Regions from separate parts of the Homo sapiens genome. Here region 1 is linked to region 2. Evidence: fine-mapped expression QTL. A gene starts in region 2. The other region holds a variant in brackets. All regions are shown on one strand. Distances are from middle to middle. Region 1 overlaps LINC02692 (long intergenic non-protein coding RNA 2692). Region 2 holds the start of FBXW5 (F-box and WD repeat domain containing 5).

What was found. PIP is the estimated chance that this variant, and not a neighbour inherited with it, causes the effect. A credible set is the group of variants that fine-mapping cannot tell apart.
Region 1: its variant is the best candidate, but not a certain one, in a credible set for the expression of FBXW5 in whole blood (TOPMed, PIP 0.87).

What each region holds. Positions count from the first base shown.
Region 1 is chr9:136,969,454-136,974,807 of GRCh38, reverse strand. It overlaps LINC02692 (long intergenic non-protein coding RNA 2692), which reads right to left. Exons shown (of 5, transcript NR_157392.1): 1 at 5,335-5,354; 2 at 4,749-4,922; 3 at 3,765-3,844; 4 at 3,232-3,310; 5 at 1,924-2,131. Among named protein-coding and RNA genes, the nearest start is that of LINC02692, 2.7 kb to the right of the region's middle. The variant G/A (reference allele first, on the strand shown) is at 2,511.
Region 2 is chr9:136,941,837-136,947,190 of GRCh38, reverse strand. FBXW5 (F-box and WD repeat domain containing 5) reads left to right here and starts at 2,453. Exons shown (of 9, transcript NM_018998.4): 1 at 2,453-2,597; 2 at 3,085-3,300; 3 at 3,685-3,842; 4 at 4,248-4,422; 5 at 4,496-4,644; 6 at 4,725-5,145. The coding sequence starts at 3,108. It overlaps C8G (complement C8 gamma chain), which reads right to left and starts at 1,948. Exons shown (of 7, transcript NM_000606.3): 1 at 1,733-1,948; 2 at 1,421-1,557; 3 at 1,192-1,262; 4 at 999-1,106; 5 at 625-726; 6 at 502-540; 7 at 216-423. The coding sequence starts at 1,870. The coding sequence ends at 410. RefSeq lists silencers at 2,410-2,989, 3,370-3,439 and an enhancer at 3,275-4,040.

The DNA of each region.
Region 1 (5,354 bases), 28 kb before region 2:
GCATCCTCCGGGGGCAGTGATGACCCTGTCCAGCATCCCCACCAATGGTTTGCCCTTGAGGGCCGAGGCTGTCCCAGTGACTGGTGGGAGCTGAGCTCGACTGAGTGTCCACCAGCCTCAAATAAACTCATGGGGACCTCGTGAGCCCCACCCACCTGCAGCCTGGGATCAACTCCCCCAGCCTGGGACTGGGGAGGGGCAGCCTCTACACCCCACCTTTCAGAGGTACCCAAGCCTCACGGCCCCAGAGGCTCACTCCTGCCAGAGCTGCCCCGCTGAGGATCTTCCATAGGGAAGGGCAGTGCCCGGGATCACTGAGACGCTGTGGAGTGTTCTGGACAAGTCAGGGGCAGAGCAGGAGCACCCCTGAGATTGTAGCCGGGGAGACCAGGGCCGGGTGCGGTGGGGGCAGCTCAGGGCTCCTCTAGGGGCAAGAAATTCTCCCCAAGGCCTCCCTGCGTCAAGGGAGCTGCTCTGTGATTGAAGGAGGCCTGAGTGGACGGGCCACGTGGGACAGCCCCTCCTCAGGGCATCTCTGAGCTGCTCAAAGCACATGGGACCCACTCTTCACCCAGCCCTCCTCTCTGTGCCTGTCTGTTTGGGTGTTCACTGACATGGGGGACGGCCACCTCTCCGCTCACCCTTTCTGGCTGCCTCTGGCCACCTCTCCCAGCACCACCCTGGAGGTCAGGCCCGCCCAGCAGCCGGGGACGGCGCAGAGGACAGGGCAGCCCGGGACAAGCCAGAGGATAGGGGAGCAGATATGTCCCTGGGACTTGAGGCTCATATGTGCATTGCTGGCCATGGGGTCCAAAGACGGTTATGGCCAAGCCTCAGCCAATTCTGCAGCTTTGGAGCCAGGGCTAGGCTGGCTGTCTGTGGGGGACAGATGGCAATTTGGGGGTGCTGAACGATCTGTCCAATGTGGGGTCCAGCAGGCTGGTCAGAGGCTGCCGCATCCCAAAGGTAGCAGGGCCGGGAGGAGGGGGCGGCCCAACCCCCAACACCACACCCGCACCCACACCCGACACCACACCCACACCCCTGGCCTCGAGAAGCTCAGCTCCAGGATCCCGGTGCAGTGGACCTCTGAGGCCCAGTCTGGCTTCAGGAAGCGCCCAGCTCGGCCATGGAAGGTCAGGGCTAAAGTGTCCCCACCTCACCCATTTAGGGGCTGGGCGGGAGCTCCCCAGGAGGGCAGGGTCTGGGCAGGGGCCAAGCCTGGGAGGGCCTCGCCTAAGGACCCCTGGGTCACTGTAGCACCAGGCTGGGCACCGCTCCCCACAGAGACCAGAAGCCGGAAGTACCATTCAGCGCAGGGGCTGGCTCCGGCAGGGCACAGGTGGAGACCCGATCCCAGAGGCTGCTCCCCACCTCTGTGCCCACCCCCGGTCAGGGCTGGGCCTGGATCTTCAGGGACTCCTGCCTCCCATCGGGGGAACGTGGGGTGGCACACAGGGAGCCTGGGCCCACGCCCCTGAGATGGGGGCTCCTGCCTCTCACTCTGGGGTTCCTTTGAGGCAACCCAGGGGGATGGGGCCACAGATCTGAGAAGAGCCAGCGGTGAGGAAAGGGCGCTCCTAGCAGGGGCAAGGGCTGCCAGGTGCTGTGGAGCTGGGCAGGGACCCTTGGTCACAGGCCTCCGCAGCCTCTGTCACCCCACGGTCCCAGCCCTCCAGCCTAGGGCAGTTTCTGCTGGGCGCCATGGAGGGTGGCCTATGTTTGAGGATGAATCTGGCTCTGTTCACCAGAGAGCGTGGGACGGGCCAGGAGAGCACCCAGCTGGGAGGGAGGCAGCCACTGGGGGTTAGATGAGGACAAATGTCCGAGCTCAGCTCCTCCTGGGCCTGGAACCTGGGCTGCTCCCCGAGGCCCTGCCCACCCATCACCCAGTGCTCAAGGACAGTCGGATCCGGCTTCTCCTGGCACAGACTGTTTATTTCTGATGGGGTCGTGGGGGCAGGTGTGGCTGAGCCTCCCACGTGGAGGGGGCACCAGCGAGGCTGGGATGGGCGGTGAGGGTGGGGCTGCCAAGGGCCGGGCCAGGCTCCAGCGTCCTCAGGACAGAGGGTGGCCGGCCCAGGCAGAGAATCACGGAGGGGCTAGAGTGAGAGGAGGGAGAAGCAGAGACCTGCAGGAGAGAGAGGGGTGGAGGGGGTGCCAGGGCCAGGAGGAAGGAGGGCCTCGTGGATCCCAGAGTGGCCCGGGACCCCCAGGACCCCTGGCAGTCACACTCGTGGCTCACCACGGGCTCTTCTGTGAGGCAGGAGTGCTGGTCAGAGGCCCAAGGGTCCAAGGCCAGGGTCGCACGACCTCTGACCCGGGGGCTCCTGCCTGCCCCCAGGGCTGCCTTGGGAGCTGCAGGTGGCCCAGTACAGGGGACCCAGGAGCTTGGGCAGAGACCCTCAGAGGCCCTGGGTTGGGTGGGGGGGACACTCCAGGCCGCAGGTGTGTCCAGGTTTGGGCCCCGCAGTGTCCCCCACACCTGGAGCAGTTGGTAGCGAGGCTCC[G/A]GCAGGGCCCCAGCTCACTCTCAGCTCTCAGAGCCTCAGCTGCTGTGGCCTCAGCTCATGGCCTCCCTCTTCCCACGGGGCCCCTGCGTCTGGGGGGCCTGGCCTCTTCCAGCTCAGAACCCTCTTGCCTCAAGCTTGGCCTTCCCGGCCAAGGCCCTTGGGTCAGAAATGGGGGCTGACAAGGGCTTCCCTGCAGCCCCTCCTCCGGCACTGCCGTCCCCTCCGCCTGCCGTGTACGTGGGGTGCCTCCAGTGACCCCGGGTCCTGCCAGGACCCTCTGGCACCTGGCCTTGACCTCCGGACCCCTATGGTCTCCTGGGCAGTCCTCCCCGCTGGGCTGCACGGACAGGATTGGGGCTGGTGCCTCTCAGGTTGTGTCATTCAGGCACCAGACACCCTCTCCTCGGCGGACACTGCTGCCCGGCCCCAGGCTTTGGCCTGCAGGGCTCTGGGCCAACCTCCCCGCATCAGTGTGGTCTCTGCTTGCCTACCCCACACCCCCAAGGCCTGCCGGGGCCAGTCTGGGGCAGGAAGGGAATGTGGTCAAGGCTGATGCCCAGGATCTGGTCAAATCTGATAAATTTCTCCCTCAGGTCTAAATCCAGCTCCTTCCCCTGCCCTGTGCCAAGAAGGGGGGTGAGCCCTGGGGAGACCCCTCCCTCCCCAGCCCAGCCCTCAGGGGGTCCTGCATGGCCCCTTCCCGCCGTGCTCAGGGCCTCACCGAGCAGCTTGGCCTGGGTCCCTTCTCCTGGCGCTTGGTCTCGGCGTAGCCTCCATCTCGTCATTTTCCAACCCCACTTCTGCACGGAGCAGGCGGGTCAGGCAGGGCTCAGGACCCTACTGCTGGGGACAGGCTGCTGATCATGCCCCCTCTGGGGCCACACCAAGACCTTCCCTGGAGTGTCCATTTTAATTTATTTATGTTTTTCGAGTCAGGGTCTTGCTTTGTCGCCCAGGCTGGAGTGCAGTGGCACGGTCACAGCTCAATGCAGCCTCCTGGGCCCAAGCAATCCTCCCTCCTTAGCCTCCCAAGTAGCTGGGACTACAGGCATGCACCACCACACCCAGCTAATTTTTCAATTTTATTTTTGTAGAGATGGGCTCTCCCCATGTTGCCCAGCCTGGTCCCGAACTCTTGGCCCCAGTTGATCCTCCTGCCTCGGCCTCCCTAAATGCTGGGATTACAGATGTGGAGTGACCTTAACCTGGGGCAGTTCTGGGCCTTTCTTGGGGTGTCAGGCAGGGAAGACTCACCCTCCCGGCCTCCAAGGGGGTTCTGAGCTGGCTGCTTCTCCGGGACAGGGGTCCTGGCCCAGCGTTTGCAGGGTGGGTCCCTGTGGGAGGAGGTTGTGGTGGGGAGAGGCTGGGGTGAAGGCTTTGGGGAGGGGCAGGTCGGATGAGCTGGGGAGGGGAGGCTTCCTGGCCTCCCGGAGGGTCCTGCTCCCCACTCTTCCTGAGGCTGCTCTTCCTGGCAGCCTGCCTGTCCCCGCCTCTGACCACGTCCCCTCCCCGTGGAAGTTCTCACTGGATGCATGGAATTGGGATGTCCCAGCCACAGCCACCATGTCCCTGGGCCCTGCACCCTGCCCTGATCTTCCCCTGCCCCTGGGTCTCAGGACAGGCTCCTCCTCCAAACTGCAGGCCCCGGGGGAGAAGCAGGGGCCCCACAGCTGTGCTGAGGGTGTGGGTGAGCTCCCTCAAGGCAGGCGCTGCCTCCTTCCACCCACGGGGTCCACCCACCTGCCTGTCTGTATGAAGGGTCTCCACCCCACAGCCCTCCGTCTCCCCTCCCCGGGCAGTCCCATCACCCGGCAGGGGCTCTGGGCACCCAGCCTCAGGTGAGCAGGCTGGACATGACCACGGCTGCCACCAACATCCTGAATTGGGACCTGCGCTCCGGCCTGAAAGTGTTGACCGCCAGCCCCAGGACGCACCACTCCCCCAGAACTGCAGGGGCTGGCAGTGGGCAGGGCCAGGACCCCCTCCCCAGGCAGGGGTTCCAGGCTGGGCTGGCACCCGTGACTCTGGCAGGAGTCCGGATCTGACAGGGATGGGTGACCCTGGCCAGTGGGTGGGCAGCCTTCCTGAGCCTCACTTTCTCCACCTGCACAGAGGGCGTGAGCTCTTCCCACCTGGCAGGGTTCTCCAGGGCCATGAGGGCCATGCTCACTGTGGCAGTCAGGCCCATCGGCCCAGCTGCACCCTCCTTCCTCCTTCCCCATCCTGGAGGCCACTCACCCGCTCCTTTCTGAGGCCAGGCTGGAGACAGATCTTGTGGAAAGGCAAGTTCAGGCCCCTCTGGGGGCCCTGGCGCTGTGGCTGGACCGTCCCCAGCAGGGTGAGGCCCACCCACAGGAGTCCCAGGGCTCCACACAGGGCTGCAGGGGGCAGGACTCTGGGGCAGCAGCTGGCCTGGCAGGGGGTGAGGATGGGGGTGGGGAAGGGGGTGGGTGAGGGTCTGGGCTGGGACCCCCTAGTAACGAGGTCCCCTGCTGGCCCCCACCCCAGGACAAGCAACCTCTTTTTCTCCAAGTGCAGGAAGGGTGAGATTTTGCCCCTCTCCCTCCTCAGCAGCGGGGCTAAGGGGCGAGGCAGGGCAGAGGGAGGCTGGGCTGGGGAGGCAGGGGGCCCTCCTTGGACTCAGCCCAGCAAAGATTGAGGAGCGTGCCTTCCACTGGTGCCCACCATTCCCTGGTCTCAACCTTGGGAGGGGAAGCGGGGTGGAAATGTGGGCTGAGGGTGGGCACCCGCAGAGACCACCAGCTCCCAGGGAGGCCCCAGGCCTCAGCTCTGATTCCCAAAGCCCGGGTCCCTGCCCTCGTACCCCTACGTCCATCCTCGGAG
Region 2 (5,354 bases):
GAGGCTGGACGCCCCCAGGTCCCAGCAGGGCACAAGATGGGCATATGCCAGAGAGGATCTCCCCTCCCAAATCCCAAGAGCCGCTGAAATCGGCCCAGTGCCCACTGCGTGGACTCCAGCCAACAGGGAGCGCCGGGCTTTTAAAGAGGCGGGGTGGGGGCAGAGAGGGCCTTGGTGGTACTGGCGCCGGTCCAGAGTGGACAGAAGAGTCAGAGAGGGGTCTGAGACATTTAATAAGTAGGTACCACTCCACCCACTGTCCTCTGGGGCAGCCGGCAGAAGATCCCCTGCCCTGGGTGGCAGGGCCCTGATCTGAGGCTGGTTTCACGGAGGACAGGCAGCGGGCACCCCACTGGTGGGGTCGTCTCTCGGGGCACTGACTTCTCAGCACTGGAGCTGTGTGCCGGCCTCACCTCCTCACTTCTGCAGCAGAGACGAGACTCAGCCGGTGGCAGTGGCCCCCCTCACCACGCCGCCATGCTTGCCCCGCTGTGCACTCACCGTCCAGGACGTGGAACTGGTCTGCAGCCTCGCAGAAGCCTGGGGGCCCAAGGCAGGGGTCAGGCTGGACATCAGCCCAGAGAGTGGGGGTGGCTGAGCTGGGGACCTGCTGGGGACACTCACCGTACTTGGGGAAGTAGAAGATCTGGTCCTCAGTCAGGTGGGCCTCCTGGACCCGCTGCTCAAACCCACTCAGGACCGAGTCGCTCACAGGGAGCGAGCGGGCTGCAGGGCAGACAGGGTTCCTGGGGTCCTGGCACCAGGCGGCGTGGAGGGCTCTGGAAACGGGGTCTGTGTGTCCCCTGCCCCCTCGGGGCCCTCTCCCTGCTCCCACACCAGGCCTGTCTGTCACTACTCCCTGGGCCCCTGCTTAGCAGGAGGATCAGGATGGGAGAAAGGAAGTGTGTCCCCATGGGCTCACCCAGCCCCTCGGGGTGGCCCAGTGAGTGTGCAGAGCTTGAGCGCCTGCCTGGTCACAGAGGCTGGCCCCCACATACCGTAGAGCTTCACTGACAGCTGCCCCGCCCGCTCCAGGTACAGGACAGCGAAACTCTGGTAGTCGGTCTCAGCGACAACCACGTGCACAGCCCCTCGGGCGTCTCGGGCTGGGGCAGAGCCACAGTAGCCATGTCAGAGAGCCACAGTGGCTGCGTCATCCCCCACCCACATGCCCTGCAGCCCCTGCCTCACCTTGAAGCAGGAAGCGGCCGAGGACCCCTGTGTCTCCATAGAGCTGGCGCACCTGCCAGCAGATCCCATCCCTGGGGGGGCGGGGAGGAGGCACCACAGGCTGGGAGACCCCAACCAGGAATCCTAGTCCAGGCCACAGCCGGGGTGGGGTCAGGGGCCAGAGCAGGGCTGAAGTCCGGGGGCTGAGAGGAGGGTTGGGGTTAGGGTGCAGGGCTGCTCTGGGACTCACAGCTTTCGGAAGGTACTGACAGCCATGGCTGTGCCCTGGGGAGCCACATGCAGTGTGGTGGCCTCGGCCCGGTGGCCCTGCTCCTGCAGGAAACGGCAAGCGGAGCCCACAGCCACAAGGAGCCAGGTCCCTGCAAACTGGGGGCAGACCATGGGAGAACTCGAGGGCACTGTGGGAGGGCCCCTCACCTGCTTCCCTCTACACCCCCCACAACTTCACCTGCTTCCCTCTCCCCCGCAACAACTTCTACCTGTCTCCCTCTACCCCTCCCACAACTTCTACCTGCCTCCCTCTACCCCCCCCAACTTCTACCTGCTGAGCATCAAAATTGGCCTTGGGCTGGATGGTGCTGATGGGGGATGCGGGCCGGCGTGGCCTCTGAGGCTTCTGGCCCAGCGAGCCAGCTGCCAGGAGCAGAGTCAAGAGGGTCGCAGTCCCAGGGGGCAGCATGGTGGCGGCAGCAGGGTGGCAGGACTGTGGGAGGCCAAGGGTAGCACCACCAAGTCCCAGGACAGAGTCTACTCTGCTGTCACAGAGCCCAGCCCAGGAAGTCCATGTCCATCCGTTGCCTCCCCACCCCCCACCTCCAGCCTCCTCGTGAGCCTAGCTTCGATCTGCACTTCCTGGCAGGGCCCTGGCACCATGTCCTATGTACAAAGTCCGAGTTGACCTCTGGCTGTTTATCCATTTCTCCTGCACCCCTGATTTCCACCGACAGTCCTTAGCCCTTTACACGTTATCTTCCTTAAACCATCACCCAGTGGTCTTATCTCCATGGCCAACGTCACGGGGTTCATGAAGCCACTTGCTCAGGGCCCGGCAACAGGGAGCGCCGGAGGCGGGTCCCGAACCAGCGTTCGTTGAGCCTCGCCTGCAACCCCGCCCACGACCGCCGCCCGCTGGCCACAAGGGGCGCTGTTCCCAATGCGCCCGAGTGCGCGCAGGCGCACAAAGAAAAGCCGGCCAGGCCGCCGGAGCCCAAGGCGCAGGCGCACGAGGGGCGGATGCGGGCTACCCGCGCGCTCTGCCTTCCTCGGCCATCGATGCCTCGGGGCTCGTGGCGTCGGGCCTGGCGGGCTCCCCGTTGGGCGGGGGCGGCGGTCCGAGCGGCTGCGGCAGCGGAAGCGGGTCCGGGTCGCGCAGGGCGGGGGCGGCGCAGCGGGCGGAGGCGGCCGTGGTGAGTGCGCCTGCGGCCCTCGGGGGTCCCGCCTTGTCGTCCCCGCCCGCCTTGGGCGAGTGCAGGAGCCCCGAGGCCGCCCGTGCGCTCGTCCCCGCCGTCCGCCCCGAGCCCGCCGGGCAGAGCTGCTCCAGGGCCGCAGGGCGGAGGCCACTGCCTGGCCGCCCCGAGCTTCCTCTCGGCGGAAGCCCGTCCCCGGACGGCGCCTGGTGTCCCCGTGCCTCGCGTGCGGCGGTCCGGGCCCTGGCGGGCTGAGGGGCGCCCGCTGCCGGCCGCAGGAGGCCGGGGGATGACGCGGCGGAGAGGGGCCGGCCCGGCCCGCCCGGAGCTGCCGGGTCCTTGGTTGGGCGGCGGTACCCGGGCGTCCCCTGCAGACACGCAGCCCCGTGGAACTCCCGGCGGGACGGTTGGGGCTGGAGGAACAGGACGCCCGCTCTCGGCCTCCCTTCCCGGGCCTGGGCTGAGGGCAGCCGTTGGTGGGTTTCAGGGCCGCCTGGGCAGAATGTCACGATGGACGAGGGCGGCACGCCCCTGCTCCCCGACAGCCTGGTCTACCAGATCTTCCTGAGCCTGGGCCCGGCCGACGTGCTGGCCGCCGGGCTGGTGTGCCGCCAATGGCAGGCCGTGTCGCGGGACGAGTTCCTGTGGAGGGAGCAGTTCTACCGCTACTACCAGGTGGCCCGCGACGTGCCCCGACACCCAGGTCAGTGGCGTGTGGGGCCCCTACCCACGTTCTGCAGCCAGGGCCCCGGGCCCCTGCGCTTGGGGGTCAGCCTGGCTGGGGGCCCGCCCCGCGGCCCCGCGTGTCCATGCTCACCCCCCCACACCCTGATAGAGGCCTGTCAGGACACAGCGCAGGCGCCCCTCAGAGCTTGGAGGCCAGAGGGTTCATTGGGTCACTTGGGGGGTGGGGGGTACAGGGGTCTCTGTGAGCTACAGGGTTGAATCCCCCAGCCGAGGCCTATGCCATGACTAGTGGGTTCCAGGGGCACCACGGGGCCTGCCAGGACTGCTGGGGCCACACTCGGCTCATGGCCGTGACTGCGAGGAAGGCCCGGGCCCAGGACTGACAACTGCCCACCCGCAGCGGCCATGTCCTGGTACGAGGAGTTCCAGCGGCTGTATGACACGGTGCCCTGCGTGGAGGTGCAGACGCTGCGGGAACACACAGACCAGGTCCTGCACCTCAGCTTCTCCCATTCCGGGTACCAGTTCGCGTCCTGCTCCAAGGACTGCACTGTGAAGGTGAGGACGGCCAGGTGTCCTGCACACCCCACCCAGCTCTGCCGCAGCACGGAGGTCCCAGGACCCAGGCGTTCCAACCAGGTGGTGGTGGGGGGGGGGGTGGGTCAGGCCAGAGGTGACAGCAGCCTCCCTGCATCCAGCGGAGGGACCACAGAGGATCAGGAGCGGTGCAGGGTGGCCCTGAGTGCTGAGGAGAGGGTCCCACACACAGCCGCCTGCTTCAGGGGCAGGCTCCTCCGCTCTATACCAATGCCCCCCGAGTGGATGACAGTGGCTGGAAGGGGTCCCTGCTCCCTGGTGGCCTCTGAGTAGGGCTGGCAGAGCTGGGGCCTCATGGCTGTGTAGTAGCAGGCCCCCGCCCCGCGACCTGGCCAGGCGATCACTACAGCCGCCCCTGCCGAACAGATCTGGAGCAACGACCTGACCATCTCGCTGCTGCACAGCGCGGACATGCGGCCCTACAACTGGAGCTACACCCAGTTCTCCCAGTTCAACAAGGACGACTCGCTACTGCTGGCCTCGGGGGTGTTCCTGGGGCCGCACAACTCCTCATCCGGCGAGATTGCTGTCATCAGCCTAGGTGAGCACGGGCGGCGGGTTGACCCTGCCCCCGCCCCACGCCGACAGCCTGTCCAGCCCCGGCCTCCCCACAGACTCCTTCGCGCTGCTGTCCCGCGTGCGGAACAAGCCCTATGACGTGTTTGGCTGTTGGCTCACCGAGACCAGCCTCATCTCGGGGAACCTGCACCGCATCGGAGATATCACCTCCTGCTCGGTGCTGTGGCTCAACAATGCCTTCCAGGTGCGTGCGGGGCTAGGGGCGGGGCTGCCCTCCTGGGGCCTGGCGCCCGGCGCCCACCTGGCACGTGCCCCCGCCCCCAGGATGTGGAGTCAGAGAACGTCAACGTGGTGAAGCGGCTGTTCAAGATCCAGAACCTCAATGCCAGCACCGTCCGCACGGTGATGGTGGCCGACTGCAGCCGCTTCGACAGCCCTGACCTGCTGCTGGAAGCCGGTGACCCGGCCACGTCCCCCTGCCGCATCTTTGACCTGGGCAGCGACAACGAGGAGGTGGTGGCTGGCCCGGCCCCCGCCCACGCCAAGGAGGGCTTGCGGCACTTTCTGGACCGCGTGCTGGAGGGGCGGGCGCAGCCACAGCTGTCGGAGCGCATGCTAGAGACCAAGGTGGCCGAGCTGCTGGCCCAGGGCCACACCAAGCCACCCGAGCGCAGTGCCACAGGCGCCAAGAGCAAGTACCTCATCTTCACCACTGGCTGCCTCACCTACTCCCCACACCAGATCGGTACACCCCTGCCGCCATGCTGCCCGCCTCGGTCCTAGGAGCTTGGGGGAGGCCGGGCAGGGGTCCTGAGGGGCAGACAGCAAGCAAGTCCACAGGCAAAGCTGGGATCGTTCACTCGCCCCTGGGGTCACAAGCCCAGACCTGGGGCCTGTGGGATGAGCAGTGAAAACAAACGCAGGCAGGGCCGCTGGCCAGCAAGCAACCGACGG